Linked DNA regions of Homo sapiens. The protein of the gene in region 1 interacts with the protein of each later gene in a pairwise test. Each region holds a gene or a part of one and is shown in the gene's direction. Other genes may lie near its edges.

The links.
Region 2: the proteins of RAB9B (region 1) and HPS4 interact in a two-hybrid assay, tested with the Homo sapiens proteins (one study listed by IntAct).

The regions. Positions count from the first base shown.
Region 1 is NC_000023.11:103,818,048-103,830,870, reverse strand, and holds the end of RAB9B (ras-related protein Rab-9B), read left to right. Parts: intron 1-3,792; 5' UTR 3,793-3,866; intron 3,867-5,044; 5' UTR 5,045-5,086; coding exon 5,087-5,692; 3' UTR 5,693-8,544; downstream 8,545-12,823. UniProt on the Homo sapiens protein: The small GTPases Rab are key regulators of intracellular membrane trafficking, from the formation of transport vesicles to their fusion with membranes.
Region 2 is NC_000022.11:26,480,784-26,488,026, reverse strand, and holds the start of HPS4 (BLOC-3 complex member HPS4), read left to right. Parts: upstream 1-4,243; 5' UTR 4,244-4,353; intron 4,354-5,153; exon of another isoform or gene 5,154-5,281; intron 5,282-5,786; 5' UTR 5,787-6,264; coding exon 6,265-6,305; intron 6,306-7,243. Other genes in the region: SRRD (SRR1-like protein), read right to left, coding at 1,964-2,004, 3,928-4,136.

The DNA.
Region 1 (12,823 bases):
TCTTCTCTCCATCATCATACTAAAATGTACTATTTTCAAAGGTTCAACTTCTTTTTCTTCATTGTACTGCCTCCTCCCCCACCTCCACTCCCACCTCTAAGCATTCCCAACTAAATACAATAATTTGAATAAGGCTTTGTGGGTACTGCAGATTCAGAAGGTTTCAAGTGTGTTAAAGAACAAAGAGCTGGGGAGTATTGGTTATGGAAATTCCTAATTCACCTTACTCTCCAAGACTGAGACCCTGATGGGAAAAAAAAAAGTTAGTAAACTATCCTTAGAGCATGCTCATTAATGAGTTTGTGGGGGTAGGAAAGGGGAATTGCGTCTCTCGAATATTTTACTCAGTTAGAGTCAGATCTTTCTCTGAATGGGATCAAAATCAGAATAAGCGTTTTGGTCCAAATGCTCGCCCGACAGAGGACCCATAAGGGATGCATACGTCATTTGACTTTCCTATTTACGTATTTAGTGTTATCAAAGAATTCATTTGCCTGCTTAATGTTACCTTGTTTAAAGGTTTGGATTAAATCCGGCATATTCTGGGGGAGGAAAAAATGATTTCATTTGCTTTTACACTGTGCTAGTTCTTTTTAATTTAAGTATGTACTAAAGGACATGACATTCATTTTCAAACAATGATAAATGATTGTGGAGAGGCCAGCACCCACCGACAACATCAACTGGATATCATTATTCTGCTCTTGTTTTGGGTAGGAATGGGGAAATGTATATACTTATTTTTAAAATGTGAGAGTAGGGGGAGGAAAACTGGAGCATTTCCCTTGACTTTCAACAGGTGGAATTCCCATTACTCCCCATCCAGAAAATGATCGAGTCAAGTTCATAACTTCTGCTCTTTAGTTACCTTATAAATAATAGTATTTTGGCATCTTACAGAACTATGGATCTATTGTACCTTGGCATCAATTCAGAGGCATTAATTCTGGGCACCTACCTAATCATTTAATTGGTAAACAAATATTTATTATCTCCATGGAGGATCCTGGTGCTGCACACTGAAGGGGCTTCAAAGATGTATACAGTGAGCTTACTATCTAGGAATTTAAAATTGATCATGTAAGAAAGACAGGAAAAGTTTGTTAACAAAATAAGTCAGTATAATGACATTATTTCAACTGTAAACAATGAGATCCTGAGCTTGCATGTTAATTTGTAAACTCCCTGAGGGCAAGACCTTGCCTTAAACATTTATTAATTCCCAACAGTATCTACATCCAATGGATGTTTGAGTGATGAAGCTTTGCAAAGTAGATTGAGTGGGGAGACACCAGAAGCAGGGAGAGAAGAACTTTCACAATAGATTAGATGTGAGAAATTGTGGGCCAAAATGAGGATGGTAGCACAGGACTAGAAAATGATACTTCAAGGGAAAATCAGCAGGATTGAATGAAGGCAAGGAGACAAATCTAAACTGTATTCATTTTTACTTCTAGAAAATAAATGGGAGTTGGAGACAGCAGAGGAGAGTGGAGGGTTTCCTTAGTAAGGACACAACACACAATAGGCACTGTAGTGTTTTCTCAAATATCAGTAGCAAGATTGGACCAGAAGACCCTGAAGGTCCCTTCAATGCTGAGATTCTGTGCCATATGCAGATGTTCAAGCTTGTTGAGGAACAAGGCATTCTCAAATATGGAAGAAAGAGAAAAGGAAGAATTCTTATACTTTCACTAGCAGGCCCTTTCTGAGAAGGGTTAATACTGAGCCACAAGGCCCCCACCAGTGCATGAAAGGAGGTGGAGGAGCCAGAGGAATAAAAATCTCAAACCAAATTTTTCAAAAAATGCTTACAAATCTTTGCAAACTTCATAAGCTTTTCATTCTCCCCCAAAATCCTGTTAAGTAGGGCAGGTATTATCTGCTCTATTTTTATGTAAGAAGATACTGAAACAGAAAGATTAAATGACCTGCCCAAGTTCATAAAATAAATGAATGGTGTAACAGTGATGAAGACCCTGGTGTCCTGATTACTGCCAGCTAGCTCAGTGCTCTTGACACTGAACCACATTGCTTTTCCTCTTTTTCCCTTGGCATAGAGCCTATAGGCCCAGAAGTTATGTGTGCACATAACCAAATAGGGAATGCACAAGCAACTGCAGCATTATCTCAGACAGTTATTAATACATCATCATTATTCCTGGAGCTGAGCATTTGGTTTCCATATTCACTCAGTCCTTGACCTGTCTATTGAGTTTATCTGCAACTGGGAGAATAGGGTCAGTGAGTCTTTTAATGATGTGAACGCCTGTTTGCTAGGAACTCAAGGAAGCTTGTGTGGCCTGGACGCTTAATACTAGCCATCAGAATCATGCCCAAGTTTGTACTTCTGTTGCTTTTCAAAATGAGAGTTCAAGAGTTTTGCTCTGTAAAATTATCCTACAGACCAGTATAAAAAAATAAAAAAGTGTGCTAACACTTGTTTCATCTCCATTTAAAGAAATGTTTGTTACTTGAGCTAATTCCAAAGACAGCAATTTGGGAGCAGGAAAAAGAGGACAAAAATTAGGAATTGTAGGAAACTTGAGAATTCTGTAGAGTGTATATAAACCAAGAAGGAGGATAAAGCCTATCCATTTAGGAGATATTATTTAAATTCATAATTACTGATTTAGATATCTAATGAATCCTTATTATAAGTTTTATCTATATTTAGAAAATAACATGTGATTATTAAGCAGCAGATTTTTTTTTAAAGCTTCGTTCTTCCTCAGTAAGAAATAACACTACACAGATCTAGGCACTGTTTTTCTTCTTAAACCAGTACTCTTGATGCTGCTTAAATAAGATTCTTGCCATAATTAATTATAATATTAGATGAATGTATATTTAAATTTAATAACACCAGCTAAATATTAAAACTGGTGTTTAAGACAGATGAACTGCCAGGTACAGCGGCTCACGCCTGTGAACCCAGCACTTTGGGAACATGAGGTGGGCAGATCGTTTGAACCCAGGAGTTTGAAACCAACCTGGGCAACATGGTGAAACCCCATCTCTACAAAAACTACAAAACTTAGCCGGGCATGGTGGTGCATGCCCGTAGTCCCAGCTACTCAGAAGGCTGAGGTGGGAAGATTACTTGAGCCCAGGAGGTCGAGGCTGCAGTGAGCCATGACTGCACCACTGCACTCCAGCCTGGGTGACAGAATGAGACCTTGTCTCAAATTTAAAAAATAAATAAAGAAAAGAAAAATGACCTAAACTAATTAATAAAATAATTAGCCAAGATAATATACTTTATTGTAAACAGGAAGCCCACAAACACAATTTTTTTCTGCTCTCTAATTATGTGGAATCAATTGCAGAGACAACCTTGAGACAGACTGGTGAGTGCACTAACAACTTTCTTGGAGATGGGAACGTTGGTAGGTATAAAAGGAAGAAGTTTCATCTCCGACTTAGGATTTCAGCATATCTTAGATTGCTCTGTACTTTCCTTTTCCTGAATGTCATCTATTGTGAATATCATCTTTCTTTAATTTGCTTTTACTTTGAATGGAGAATTCAATTGAGAGACAATATAAAATGTAAAAAATTATATAAATTACAAATTAGGATAAGTTAAAGTTCTTGGAATAAAATTATTTTGCTTATGTTAAGCATAGGTAGCATTTTGAACTTTTATTTTTGAAAAGCACCCTCTGTAGGTTACTTGAGGTTGCTGTGGGTTCTTTTTTTTTTTCTGACTTGAATATATTTTTATATAGAGCCTTAACGTTATTTTATTATAGATTTTTTTAAAATAATGTTTTCTATTCTGTTTTATAGCACCCTAAAAAGAAAGAATAAAACAACAACAGGAAAAAAAGGAAAATATTTAAATTGTGACAAAAACCCACTGGGTAGGTATTTCAAGGGGGCACACTGTGGATTTGGGATATTTTAATATTTGATCTCTTAAAAATGAATATTTAGAAAAATATATAGCTAGTACATAGGCATTCCAAAATCATTTTAAGGGCTACTAAATTTTGTAAAATTATATTCAAATGTGTGTGCTTCCAGAAACTGTTTTGCATGCACTCCTTCGATTAGTGATTCGTTTTCATCCCTTTGGGTCTATTGTATAAATATCATCCAATTAACCTCATCACCGTTGAGTTCCCACAATAGACCTAGTGGGAAAGTACCTAACAGAATATAGGAAAAGGTAGTATTTGTTCAGTAAGCATTTGATCTTTTTATTTTAAGACACATTCTAGGTGTTCCATGTGTAGACATGTTGTGGAGGTAACAAGTAGGGTACTGTATAAATATTAGCACTTTAAATTTTGCAGTATGTTTTCAAATGTTGCTATTATGGAATTAAAACCTGAATCCAAAAACTAATAAGCTATTCAAGATTTCCTTCCTTCATGACAGCTGTTATATTGATATCAGTCAATTGTCATCAACTTAAATGCCATTGTTCCATGAAGAAAAAAATATAGAAGATCCTTACTTGAGAGGGTGTTCCTATCAATGCAAGTATAATGGGGTAAATGCCTGAAGAAACGTAACCTTGTTCTCTCTTTCAAATTCTGGGGTGCAGTCTAATTCTGGCCCAGACCTCTACCGACAGAATCAAGAATCCAGTTTATGTAGCTTTCTCTTCTCAGTAATTTTTGTATCCATCAGGAGCAGACTTCAAACCCCAAGTCAATTTCATACTATTTGTCTATTGTTTGGAACTGTCCAAACCGGAAGCTAAAGTTGTCACACATTTGAGTGGCATTCCTGTTCTAGGCTTCCTCTCCTAGAATTGGGTCAGAACTGAACCAAATTACAGGACCATCTGCTAGTCCATTTACCCATGGCACTCAGCCATTTTCCTGGCACAACAAAAGACCTCAGAAAAACAAGACCTATTTTTCCCCTTATGCAAAATTAGTGTTATTTCTTCTGCTGTACTACATCAATTAATGAGCATAAATCAGAGAAGTTGAATGAGAAGGCCTTATAATTCAGAGAAATTTGCTATGAAGTTGATTTCAGTTTCAGGTTTAACTGTTTTCCCTCCTACTTTTCCTTTTATTTTCAGGTTCTCTTGGTTACAAACTCCTTCCCTTCTGGTGCTGCAAAAATGAGTGGGAAATCCCTGCTCTTAAAGGTCATTCTCTTGGGTGATGGTGGAGTTGGGAAAAGTTCGCTTATGAACCGTTACGTAACCAACAAATTTGACTCCCAGGCTTTTCACACCATAGGGGTAGAGTTCTTAAATCGAGATCTGGAGGTAGATGGACGCTTTGTAACCCTCCAGATCTGGGACACTGCAGGGCAGGAACGTTTCAAGAGCCTTAGGACACCCTTCTACAGGGGAGCAGACTGCTGCCTCTTGACCTTCAGCGTGGATGATCGGCAGAGCTTCGAGAATCTTGGTAACTGGCAGAAAGAATTTATTTACTATGCGGATGTGAAGGACCCTGAGCATTTCCCCTTTGTAGTTCTGGGTAACAAGGTAGACAAAGAGGATAGGCAAGTGACTACTGAGGAGGCACAAACCTGGTGCATGGAGAATGGGGATTACCCTTATTTAGAAACTAGTGCCAAAGATGATACTAATGTGACAGTGGCCTTTGAAGAAGCTGTCAGGCAGGTGCTGGCTGTAGAGGAACAGCTGGAGCATTGCATGTTGGGTCACACCATTGACTTGAACAGTGGCTCCAAAGCAGGGTCTTCGTGCTGTTAAAGATAGGGAGCCTTTTAAAAATGTGCCCCAAATTGATCAGTCAGTAGTGTAAGAATAACTGTGCCCCTCTAAGAGTGCACACACACGCACACAAGAGGGTAAGAGACAAGGTTCTGATTGTGAAACAGAGCCTTTCAAATTGAAGTGTAGATTGATTTAAAAAAATTAAAAATTAAAAAAAATGAAGCTCTATCAAGCCAAGTGTATTTTGCGTGATTTCTGCTATTTCCCCTTCTTGTGTGTCTCAGGACATATCAGAAAATTTTAGTCCTGAGACAGTTAAATATTTTTTAAATCACAGTTTAAACCTAGAACCCAGCTGCATGAAGGAGTTAAAGAGCTACAACTATTTCTTAAAGTGTTCCATTAATCAACTAACAAATGTCACTATCAGACTCTTGCCAAGCAGTTTCTGACATTTCTGCCAAAGGGGAAAAAAATCAGACTTTGAGCTGTATTACAATAAAAATAATAATGCAAATAAGGATTCCTAGGCTTGAATTAAAGAAGTTGTAATGATTAGGAGTGCAAAAGTATAATGATATACACTGACTTGTTTAAATCCTTATGTATGGTTCGCTCCCATCTGAGCTTTTCAAAAAATCCCATCTCAATAAGAGATACTCTAATGACACTGGCAATTGATTATACTTCTTGTGTTTGAAGTCATAGGATACTAGTGAATGGATTATGCTTAAATATGCCAACCACCTTTGCAAATAAATGGTTGGTCTGCTTTTAATTCCTAAGTCTACTTTTGCTGCATAGAGATGTTGCTTCTCTGACAACCTCTTACCAATTTAGCAATGCTGCTTAGTATATGAATTTGGATGCAGTGCTCTCTGCTCATCATTTAGATGGTCCTTTGATCCAACATGCTGGGCTCATGGAGAAGGCTTCATAAAAGATTGGGGGATAATGAACTTTTCTCACAAGGCTCCTTAACTCAAATATTTATTGCAGAAGAAGGAACTGGTTTCTTATATGTTGCACTGTATGTTCAACTAGCCTAATTAGGACATTGAAAGTGACAGAAGAGCAGATCTTAACCCAGTGTTAGAATGAATTTCCCATAAACAGAGTTGTCCAACAGTGGAATGGACTGCCTTAATAGTGAGCTCCCTGCCTCTGAAAATATTCACTGGATGACCATCTGTTAGAATACCATAAAAAGATTTTCTGTGCTGGCTACATGTTCAATATAAAGTCCTTTCTGGCTCTAAGTTCTATGAATATATAAACTACATCAGTGCCATGCTGTGGTTAGATTTATCTGATGATAACAGCTAAGACTATGGAGAGGGACTTTAAAAATTCTCAAACCATTCTGTGATCAATCTTTAACAGCAACTACATAGCTCTTCCTTTTGCTTTTGCACTGTGGCAGGAAAAATTCTTGAGCTCTGAGTAATCTTTATGTGACTGATAAAAAACATCTTAAAGCTCCCATGTTAAAATATAAAAATGGTTTGACAATTTTTGATTACCATGACTGTCAGTTATATACTATATTATGAATATGCAGTGTGGTTCTTGTTGGTTGATCTGTTTACCCTGCATAGATTTTAATCTGTACTTTAAAACATCTATGATAAAAATAGTGACAGACAGAAATTACCCCAAAAAGAGACCTAGGCCAGGAAGGGGGTGGGAGCTTTCATAGGAATACAGCCTAGAACTCTCCATTGTAGCCACGTATGGAATCAGCCTTACTTACATGTAGGACCTTTGTGCTTTAAGAGCTCTGGGACATATTGGCCAAATAGAAAAGAAGAGGACAGTATTTCAACTCAGTCATACTCAATATTTCCAATTAAGATATAATCCTGACACCATTGTTCAATTAACTTTGACGCCAGAAGTCAAAGCCAGAACTGGGACCCCACAGCTCTTAAGTACTGGTCCCTATCCTGCCTATGCCTATAGCCAGCCACACTGGTTTCCAAGTTCTGTGATCATTTTGCTACAATCATGTTAGGGTGAAAATCTGTACGTCAGAACTGTTAAATGCTAATTATTTTTAAGTGCATGAGACCTGGGGCCTTCTCTTTCTACTTGCACTCTGCTTATACTAGTTTCTATTTGTAGATCTCAGGCCTTCATCATAAAGACCTCTATCAACTCACAAAAGTATTTGTCTCTATTAGAGTGGCATGTGGTCATTTGAGTAAAAAAAAAAAAATTACATGGGTATCGGATTCATAGGCATCCTGTCCATCTAAGACAAGTGTTAATTTTATTGGCCCATCAGCTGGAGCCCCTTTCCTCTTAGCCATACCATTGTTTTCTACCAAATTACCACTCAATATCTTAATGAAAGCACTCAACATTAAGTGACATAAACAGTGGCATTTGGGTAAGCAACACTCAGTGGGGTGCTGACATACAGTTTGGGTAAGATTAAAAAACACCAAAGGCTGAAATCTGTGAGTACCAAGAACTGTGCATATAGGTTTAGAAATTGACTGTGTACCCTAGAATGTGCAGTGTAATATTTTCAATAGGTGTTTTTTTAAAGAACACTAGATTTTTGGAATAATATATTTCTAATTAGGACTATACTGTTTTTCAATGGTCTGTTAAAACATCATACAGAATATTTATTTAGTTTATTGTCATGTATTGGCTAACTTTCAGGGGCCTCAGATTCCATATGTCTTCAGTGGATTGATGAATATCAGGTTAATTTGTGCCTGCCCCAGCCATCTCTACTTTATTCTGAGGTATTCCACAATCCTCTTGTTGCAGGTGCTGCTAAAAAAAACTCAAAATTGTGTATCAAATATTTTCTTTCAACTGTAAAAAATCATCTGTGTTAAAGTGAATAAAAAGTGCATTTTGAATAACCAGCACACAATGTTTGTGTTTATTCCCTCCCTTTCTCTTTTTGAGAAATTGGTGGGTGTGATGGACAGTACTTATTAATCAAGTCACTCTTTCAGGCTGCACTGGATGTGGCCTCTGGATCATGTTTCATGTGGTACTCCAAGCAGCCACTATCTAGTGATCAGATATTTCTATACTGATTGTGAAGCAAACTCTAAAGATTGGGGCAGGGAGGTCCTTTTTATTTTATACCACTTTCTTTCTATTTATTTAGTTATTAGAGACAGGGTCCCTCCATTGCTCAGGCTGGAGTGCAGTGGCGCAATCATGGCTCATAGCAGCCTCAAACTCATGGGTTTAACCACTTTCTAATGCATGACGTGTATTGGGACTGGAAATTGAATCTTAACTTTCCACTTTATTTCTTTATTATAATTTAAAACCATTACTTAATGGATACAATGTACACTATTCTGGTGATGGGTACACTAAAAGCCCAGATTTCAATCTGCAATATACCCATATAACAAAACTGCACTTGTGCCCCCTAAATTTATACAAATAAAAGAAAAAATATTATAATAAACAACGTTGCATAAAAAATAAGATAAATGTTAAACCATCAAAAAATATAAACAGAGTAGACATATTCCCTTTATTTTCCTGACTGGTGAATTGTCCAGACCTTAGGAAAACATGAAAATATAGGTGAAACAAATAAGAAAAGCAAAGAATAATTTTGTTAAATATTCTGTTCTCTTGCCTCTCACATATTGGATTTTAAAGATACATTAGCACCCAATGGCTTGAATATACATAATGGCGGTTTTAAAATTATGGACACAAATCTTTCCACAGCATATATAGTTTCATTACATTGATTCCATCTGCCACAGATTTCACTCTCTTCTCTCTGTCTACTTTTGCCTGTTGCAACTTTGGGCAGTTGAAATTGGGGGTGGGGAATTTGTTGGGAAACAGATTTTTTTTTTTTTTTTTTGCCACATGTACCATTTCCATCTCTGAGGATTATAATTTAACACATTATCAGACCATGCTTCAAATGCAGCACCCCAAATCATTTTGACTAGTCTATAATGATGCAACTTTTAGAATATAGAAAGTCATAGATTTATAAGCCACTTAATAAGGATTTGCTCATTTGTAACTGATTATTTTTTTTTTTGAGACAGGGTCTCGCTCTTTTGCCCAGGCTAGAGTGTAGTGGCCTGATCTTGGCTCACTGCAACCTCCACCTCCTGAACTTAAGCAGTCCTTCCACCTCAGCCTCCTGAGTAGCTGGGATTACAGGCATGCACCAGCATGCCCAGCTAACTTTGTGTGTGTGTGTGTGTGTGTGTGTGTGTGTATGTGTGTGTGTGTGTGTGTGTGTGTGTGTGTTTGAGACAGGGTCTTGCTCTGTTGCCCAGGCTGGAGTGCAGTGGCCTGATCTTGGCTAACTGCAACCTCGGCCTCCCGGACTCAAGCGATTCTCATGCCTCAGCCTCCCTAATAGCTGGGATTACAGGCGCCCGCCACCACACCTGGCTAATTTTTGTATTTGTTGTAGAGACAGGGCTTCACCATGTTGGCCAGGCTGGTCTTGAACTCCTGGCCTCAAGTGATCCACCCACCTGGCCTCCCAAAGTTCTGGGATTACAGGTGTGAGCCAATGCACCGGGGCCCATAACTGATATTTTAAAAACAGAATGCCAACTTCCTGTCTTTAATGTTTTTCTGCCTCATTCATAACCCAGTGGGAAATCTCCTCATGATGTCTTAAGAAACAGTACGGTCTCATTTTTTGGAAATGGTTTGGCGATAGTCCTTCCAGAAACAGGAAGGTGTGGAATACATAATTTGTCTTCCATCTTGTAACTGTAGTTTTAAAACACACTGGAAAATCGAGGTATCAATTTGAGTAATTTCAAGCTGGGAGGTGGGATGGACATCTCTACTTTCATTTGAATTACCCAAAGTAGATCTTGCAGCAATTTTTTTTCCTCAGTGATCTAGATAATCATTTCACTTTTTTTCTCTCTTTGCTGTGGAAATGTAAAATTTACTACAGTGCAGTGTTTTTCTTACACTTGATTTTAGGGCAGATAAACTGTAATATACTGTCTTAGCCCATTTGGGCTGCCCTAACAAAATACCATAAGCTTGGTAGGCTATAAACTACAGAATTTCATTTCTCAGCTCTGGAGGCTAGGAAGTCCAAAATCAAGGCATCCGCACATTCAGGGTCTGGTGAGGTCTTGATTTCTGGTTCACAGATGGCACCTTCCAGCTCTGTGGAAGGGGGAAGGGGTTTCTCCTGGGCCTCTTTTATAAGGACACTAATCCCATTTATGAGGGCTTCACCCTTGTGACCTAATCACCTTCCAAAGGCCCCATCTCCTTATAATGCCATAACCTTGGGGGGTTAGGATTTCAACCTATGAATTTTGGAGGGGGACAAAAAGATTCAGAGCATAGCATACACCTTTTGATAAAACGTTAATGTGCATGATTTGGGATATTCACTAATGTTTTCTTTTTCCAAACTGGTCATTTTAATTTCCTCAAGTTTCCATCACCAAAAGAGCTCTCATTCTTTACTACTTTCTCTTTAAGAGAAGGAAGGGATAATGACAAAAGCTAGGCATGTTTATGGAATAAAGGAAAAATTATTAAATGCCTTCTTACTGATATGCTTGCCAAAACTGGTGAGCAAGGATCTCTTATTCTGCTAGTGATGGTAGTGGTAATAATGTGTGAAAGGGTTTTTTTTTAAGGGGGCAAGAAGTTACTTAATATTTTCCCAGTGAAAATAAGCATCTTCACAGCTCAAGATGTGGCGTCGTCACCTGTAGTCATATAGAAACTGCTGCAGTGATCTTTGTGTCTTCATAAATCTCTTTGCCTTCTCCAAGGAAACACAGAGAATGATGATTCAGTTATATATAAATGTCTTTTTAAACAGTGGGTTTTGTGTGTGCAAGCATGTGTATTTTTAAGTAATCTGTCAGTTCCTTTCGTGCTGTATGAACTATGGGTAAATGTATAATGGTCTCACTATAACACTCCTGAATTTTAATCAGACCTGCCAAGCTGTGCCACATCTAGTTAACTGATTGATAAAAAGAATTGGGAAATGCTGCCTTAATGAAAGAAATAGCTCTTAATTCAACATTAGCTATATTGATTAGAGTAAAAATACAAATCACACTTTCCTGTGGTGCATTCATGAGGAAGCAAGAAACAGGCTCATATCATCTCTTTTCTCTTACGTTGTTCCTGGCTGCCTTAGAAACGACATATCCAAGGGTGTGTCCTGTAATATATTGCTCAACATAGAGTCTGTTAATAGATGAACAAGTGCCAGTAGCCTCTGAGTTCTCTCTTTTTCCATTTGTTCCCTGCTAGAAAACTTAGAGTGACCGATAAATGCTTTAAAATGTTCTTTTTTTCTGATTACAAAAGCCATACACATCCACCGTAGAAAAATGAAGTAATGAAAGAAATAGAAAAGCAAGATTTAAAAAATTAAAGTCATCTGTAATGTAATCCTATTAACCTGAGATAAGCAGATTTTAACATTTTAGTGTAGATTTTAATATATTTATGTATTTTTAAAATTGATTTGATACTGCACACACTGTAATCTTTTTTACTTAATATATATCTATAGTACTTAACTTTTCTCTAAGACATATATTCTTCTAAGATTATATTTGCTGTTTGCATAATATTGTATTGAAGGGTTTACCACAATTACCCATATTGCTAAACTTTTAATAAAACACTTATTGCTAGACATTTAGGTTGTTTTACAGCTGCCTTCTTTTCATAAAATAAAGCATCAGTGAAGTTCCTTAATATCAATCTTAACTCTCACCTCTGTTTATTTCCTACTAGTAAAATTTCTAGGTCAAAGATTATGAATTTTTTATTAATTTTAATATATACTGGCAAATTGGCCTCTAGAAACTTATCCCAAATGACATCAACACCAGTAGAATAAGAGGAAGACTATCTTTCCAACACCCAAACGTATGGACTATTATCTTCCTTTTTAACCCCATATGTGCAGTCTGATGGGTGAAAAAATGATCTCATGCTGTCATTTACATTTATTTAATTTTTTGAGAGTAATTGTTTATACATTCATTGGCCATTTTTATTTTTCCTTGAGTGAATGGACCCTTATGGGGGTTGGGGAACATTCATTTTTGTTTCTTATTGATTCCAAGGAAATCTTTTTTTATATTGTGGGTATTAACCTTTGATCTTATCCACATTGCTAGTTTTCTGCAATCCCCT
Region 2 (7,243 bases), on another chromosome or scaffold:
GAAAGAGCAGGCCCCCAAATGCAGTTAGAGGGCATGTTCTGACCCTGTGAACCAAATCATCCACAAAAGAAGTTCACATATTTGGGGAGAAAGAGATCAGGGCAGTAAAAGGTTTCAATTCTTCAGAGAGAGAGAGAAGCTGCCAGCCTCATTCCCAAACATGCCTGGACATACAGTCACATTCACCACCAATTGACAAACTGTCCCGGCCCCTGGACTCCCAAAACCCAAGAGCATGTTGCAAGCAGAAATTGGGTTTCACTCAAGGGCAGTTTCCATCTAAAACTCTAATGTGAACTCATTCTAATTTAACAAGACCCTCCTAGTAAATGTAGACTATGCTCTGAAATGCGTACTTTTAAAGTTGTAACAAACCAGGTGCTCACGCCTGTAATCCTAGCACTTTGGGAGGCCTAGGTGAGTGGATCGCCTGAGGTCAGGAATTCAAGACCAGCCTGGCCAACATGGCAAAACCCCATCTCTACTAAAAATACAAAAAATTAGTCAGGCGTACTGGCGCACAGCTGTAGTCCCAGCTACTTGGGAGGCTGAAGCAGAAGAATCACTTGAACCAGGGAGGTGGAGGTTGCAGTTAGCCGAGATCACACCGCTGCATTCCAGCCTGGGCAACAGAGCAAGACTCCATCTCAAAAAAATAAAATAAAGTTATACTCTGTTTAAGTCTTCTCATGTAGAGGTAGGTTCTCTTGTCTCTCCTTTTATTGTACTGGTACTGAATTTAGCAAAACAAAAAAAGCCGTGCATTCCAATAAGATACCAACTTTTCACTTAAGATACCAGCAAAGGGCCAGGCATGGTGGCTCACACCTGTAATCCCAGTACCTTGGGAGACCGAGGTGGGCAGATCACTTGAGGTCAGGAGTTCGAGACCAGTCTGGCCAACATGGTGAAACCCCATCTCTACAAAAATACAAAAATTAGCCAGGGGTAGTGGCACACACCTGTAGTCCCAGCTACTCAGGAGACTGAGGCAGGAGGATTGTTTGAACCCAGGAGGTGGAAATTGCAGTGAGCAGAGATCACACCCCTACACTCCAGCCTGGGTGACACAGTGAGACTCCGTCTCAAAAGAAAAAAAAAAAAAAAAAAAAGCAGCAAAGACATCTTTAAACAAGACCCCAAGCCAGGAAAAACTGGCTCTTCAGGTCAATTTTGATAAAAGAATTGGTGAAAATTTTCTGGATAACTTGACAATAGATATCAAGTTGGTCACCGCCTTTCATTTAATTCTACTTCTGGGAATATATCCTAAGAAGATCATCCTAAGTTTGGTAAAAGCTTTATGCATAAAGTTACTCATTGCAAAATTATGTATAATAACTTAAAAAGGCTGGTTGTGGTGGCTCATGCCTATAATCCCAGCGCTTTGGGAAGCTGTAGGTGGGAGGATCACTTGAGCTCAGGAGGTACAGGTTGCAGTGAACTATGATTGCATCATTGTACTCCAGCCTAGGCGAAGAGTAAGACACTGTCCTAAAATAATAACTGAAAAACAACAGAAGAAAACTAAATGTCCCACAATAAAAATGATACCTATGGTATGTCCACTCCATGCATAAATATTATGTCGCCACCCACACACTATGTTTAGGAAGAGATTATCACTGCACGAGGAAAAGGCTACATTGTAATATCATGGAAAAGGAACAGGATAAATATAAATTTCAGCAATAATAATGACAACATTTATTGCCTTGTATACAGCAGGCAAGCATTTAACTAAACAGCTTCAATTCTCAAAACTATAGGATATACACATTATCTCCATTTCACAGATAAAGAAACTGAGGATCAGAATTAAGTGCCAAAAGACATACAGCTGTAAGGGGCGGGCGGCGTTAGAACCCAGCAAGTTATCCCTCTGTGAAGCAAAATGTCCTCAAATGAGGACTGATTCTCTTTTCTGCCCCACAATCCCTACCATTGGCCAAGTGGTACCCACCTAGTGCTGAACTCCAGAAATCAGAGATAAACAGGTCCTTCCTGTTGAGAAAAAAAATGGCACAGTCATGTCCCACCCATCTCAGGGCTGCCCCAACAGTAACTTTCCTGATCATGACCTGAATGCTTACAGAATGAGGTGCCCTGCAATGCAGGGCCCACCCTTACCAAGTGATAGGAGGGGGATATATGTTGAATATGTCCAGAGCCAGAGCACATACTGCTGGGGCTCAGAGACTGCAGGAGAGAGTATGCTGGAGGAGGTCCTTGATTCCCAGAGAGAGATCTGGGTCTATTCTCAGTCTACAACAGAGCCTAGCATAGAATTGCAGCTCAATAAATGGTTGTTAAGTGCTCAGAATTAGCCTTTCTGAGCTTTAGTTTCCTCATCTCTAAAATGGGGATAAAAATCATTCCCAACACGGAGGAGTTTAGAGGCATAAAATGGGTTAACATTCTTAGCCCAGTGTCTGGCACATAGCAGGTACTCAACAAATGGTATTTGTTATTATAAATAGTTTTAAGGGGAAAGTAAAGAGACAAAACCAAGTGTCTGGGCTTTCTTTATTCAAGTCAACTGGTTTTACAGACCCAGAGCAAAAGAAAGTCAACAGTGAATTAAAATGAACTGGATTTAAACTGACAAGCCACAGCCAGAGACAGTGATTATGGGGTTCAGAAAGGAGTACAGAGAATTGAAAGTCGGCCCAGAGGCTGCTGCACGTTTCTCACAGAGGGTAGAGAGTTCTGATGTACACAGGAATGCTTTATGAACTGGTAAATGCGTACACAGATATGCGTGTAAAATGCTGGCTCAATCTCTACTCAGAGCGATGGTGATTGCACCACACTTGGGTGTTGGGAGAAGCAAGGAGCTCCTGGGGAATACTGAAGCAGTTGAGGAGATCGTGACAGTGTCAAGGGATATGAAAAATGCCTTGAGTTTTCCAAACCCCTAGGCACATTCACTCTCACTGGCATCCTCTGAGAGCTTAAAAATAATCGCAGGTGCTTTTTATTCAGGCTGAGCCAAATGGTCAGCAACTTTCTCTTCAGAGGTAAACTCTGGGACATTACTGCCTCTTGACCCTAATTCTAGGGGAGAGGAGCACACAAAATTAATCTAATTTCTCCCCTTGTGACGGCCCTTCGGATGCTGATCTTAAGTGCTAACTAAAGCTGTTATTTATTGAGCCTAAACAAAACTGCGAATAAAGATAATAATACTAAATAACAATAATAAGTAACATTTATTGAGTGTTTCCTCTGTATTAGGCACTCTCTATGTACTTTCTAAGGTACAGAGCAAGGTATGTGAGAATCTGGGCTGGGATAAGCAACAAGCATAATGGAAAGCTGGAAGCACTGGTTTTTGTCACAAAGACCTGGGTTTGAAATCTGGTTCCACACATTTTCTTTGTCTCTTTGAGAATCAGTGAGCTACCAGGGTCCTAGTATGCCTGCAATGTTTAACATAAAGTGTGTAGAATGATTAAGCTAATGTCAGGCACATAGCAGCTGCCTGATGATAGCAGTCACGTGTTCATGTTGCTTCCCTCGTGTCACCACCACCAATAATATCAACATCGGCATAATATTAATAGCAAACACTGGCACAGTGCTTACCACGTGCCAGAAAATGGTTTCCGTTTACTAATTCATTGAATCCTCAAAACAAACCTACGTATGTACTATTTTCATCCCCATCTCACAGATGAGAAAACTGAGGCACAGAGATTATAAATTGTCCAAGGTCACGCAGCTGTAACCGTAATAAAAGGAAAGACGACCTTTAACTGAGCGCTTACTATAATCCACATCTTTAATGAGCTCGTTACCTACGTTAACTCTTCACAATAACTCCTTAAAGGGTGTGCATTATATCTCCACTCTACAGATGGGGAGACTGTGGCTCAGAATTGCCCATGGGCGCAAAGATTCCATCAGGGCCGAGCCTGCACTCACTCAGCCTCCCAGATGCGACGAAGCACGACTCCGCTGTCAGACTCGAACTCCGCCTCGGGGCCCCGGGGCGCCGCCTCTCTCCCCCGGGGCGCCGCCTCTCTCCCCCGGGGCGCCGCCTCCCTCCGCCGCGGCCGTCGAGCCGCGGAGCGCCTCTTCCGCGGAGCCGCCGCCTGCCAGGATTCCAGCGCCGCAGCTGCGGCCGCAGCCATTGGTCTCTGACGTCAGCGGCGTGCGGCGCACTCGGCACGTCATCGCCGCGCGCCGGCTTGCCAGGAGCTGGAGGGGGAGGTAGGCGGGGCGGCGCGTGACCTAAGGCCTCTCTGCCGCGCGCGCAGGTACGGGGCAGAAGTCGCAGGTACCCAGCTGCTGCCCACATTTCTGGTCCAGAGTCCCGAACCCCGAGCACTGGGATGCCTGGCTACTCCGGTGGGTGGGCGGCGCTCGGAGCGCGGGGATACCGAGGGGCGGGCCCCCAGCTTAGAGCGTGACCCGACCCCGCCTAATCCTTAGGCGTTCGCCCACCATTTCCCAGTCCCGTAGAGCTGGGGCCAGACACCGCACAGCCCTAGTGCTGTTACCAGTCGCTGCCTGCGCCCCGGGGGCTGCGCCCAGCAGCTTCCTGGCCCTTTTCCAGCCATTAGCGTCCGTTTTCCAGCCCTGCTGCCCCACTGAGGCCCCTTCCCACAGCAGTATCACCAGCCCCAGCCCCGCGTTGTTACTATTACTTCCCAGGCTACCAGATCCTTTTCTGCTCATGTTCCGACGTCTCTTCCTACTCCAGGGCCATTATTGGTCTCTTCTGGACCTTTCAGAGATAAGAGAGGACCTCGGTAGTGTAGGGCCCAGTCCTCTGGGAACAAGGGATGGGGAGTTTTAGGCTGCTGTCCTTGGTTCCAGTAACAGAGATACCCCCTCCACAGGCACCCAAATATGCTCCATAGAATACAATGAGTGTGGTCCTGTGGAGGCCCAATCCAAAATATCTAGAGCTGAGAAGAGATAGAGATTTTACAGGCCGTCAAATATTCAATGGGGGTCGTCTCTAGAGACTTTTAACAAACTGTATTGTGTACCCACAGATTGCAGAATGGTGAGCAAACATTTGAGACCATGTTGCTAAAGCATTAAGCTTGGAGAAAGTGACAGTAAGAATTAGACAATAGTTTTGAAGTGACCAAGAGGTTGTCACATGGAAGAATTAGACCTTGTTTTGTGTTTTCCTGCAGAGCGTTATCCAGACTAGCGAGTGGGAGGCAGATGTAAAATCTGGAACGCAGATTTTAGTTTGTTGGAAGGAGAAATGTAACATAGTGAACCACGCATCTCTGGAGGGTGTAAAGCAGAGACAGCCAAGGTAATTTTTGGAAAAGAGTGCAGGAGAGTAGAGTAAACGATGCCAGGGTTCCTTCCGACTCTGAAATTCCGTGATACACTGAGCTGTCTTTCTCTTGTGGAAGTTTGAAAGCCATTTGATAAAGTTCTCTTCATTTTTTAGAAATTTGCCCTGCTCTGGAATTCTGCATGTTCAGGTTACTTTTGGACTGTCAAGATGACAGTTCCTTAATTTGGGTTCCATTATTACCACAGCAACTGGTTTATTTGTATAGCTGTCCACACCTAGAGCATTTTCACCCTGTCATTTGATTTTATCTTCCGTGAAGCTTGTGGTGTGTTTCCCTTAACTGTTCGAGAAACTAAAGCCCTTACTCTGAAGTCTCTGCAAGCCTCCCTCTTTGATTTTGAAGCATGATTGTCACCCTCACAGAAAGCTCTTTTGAAATATACCATTCGTTTAATCCTGCTGGGTCACATGCTCTCTCACGAGTTGCTGAAATATCTATTCCTTGTGTTTATTTCAGAGCCAAGGCACTGATGTTTGAACTGGAAACTTCAAAACGTTTAATAAGAGTCTTCAGGATGGGTTTGAACTAGACAAGCTAGAAATTTCTTTAGAACACCAGCTCTAGCATGCATCTCCCACTTTTGGCTTTCCTGGAGAGGAGCTTGAAGAGGTGGTTCTGCAGACAGCCACAGTGATACTTAGGAAACCAGAGGAATGGATTTGACTTTTCTGCTAGGATTCTCTGTTATAGTTTCTCCCTGAGTTGTAAGAGGCATGGAAATATACATGAAACTGAAGAACCTGCAAGGAAGGGAAGTGGAACTTTCCATGCTGAGTGAAAACTAACCAAGTGGCAGTTGTGACTGAAAACACTGAAACCTACCACGTCCAGATTCACTGGATTGGGGGATAGAGGAACGGTCACAGCTAGGGAGAAAGAAGTGATACCGGAAAAGAAAACCTAAATGAAGAGAATGAGGATGACTGCACAGTAGATGGCCACCTCTACCTCCACAGAGGCAAAGTCAGCCTCGTGGTGAGTAACAAGGCCTGCCATGGCATAGCTTTTGCTGGGCTGTTGGTTAGAGTTTTGGGGTTAATTGAAAATCCCCAGCCAGATTGTGTTAATTTTATTAACATAACAATAAAAATGCCATTTTCCTCAGAGCAGCTGAATCAAGCACGTGAGCCATCGCTCTCCAAAGCTAACATGTTTTAACCTTGCAAGCCTCTCCCAATGTTTGAATGAGTCTGGCATTGCTGGGAGATTGTAGAAAAGATAGCCACAGCCTGATCATGCAGCGAGCTTTGATGATAATGTGAATATTGTAGTCTTCAATTTGCAGAGATGAGGTATGGTTGCATTTGAGAATTACAGCATGAGGAGAGGTCTGGCCAGACTGGGTATCAAGGGGTATTACTCAATGTCTGTCTGAAACCCAGTTCCCTTCTCAACCCTAAATGCGTTAATCCTTTCCCATAATTAGGTTTAGCAAACATCAGTCATAGAGGAGATGAAGGTGAAAAGCAGGTTTAGCTAGAATTAGCAGGATTTAGTGACTGATTATTTATGTGGAAGTCAAAAAGATGGAGCAGTTCAAAATGACACCCAAGTTTTCTTTCGTGTGCCCGCACAAGCAGGGATGCTTTCATCAAGAGAACGTGGGGACAGGGGAGGATGGGGTGCACATGGAGTTTCTGAGTTGGCTTTGAAACTTTTTTGAGGCTTTTTGATCTGAGCTTACCCTGCAGCCAGTTGTACATCCAGCCTTAGGTATTGGGAAAGAGGACAGTGCCAAGAGACCAAGTTGGTGCTTTATTTATTTGTTTGTTTGTTTTTGAGACAGGGTCTTGCTCTATCCTCCAGGCCAGAGTGCAGTGGCATGATCTCAGGTCACTGTAGCCTCAATCCCCCAGGCTCAAGTGATCCTCCTACCTCAGCATCCCAAGTAACTGGAACCAGAGGCACACCCC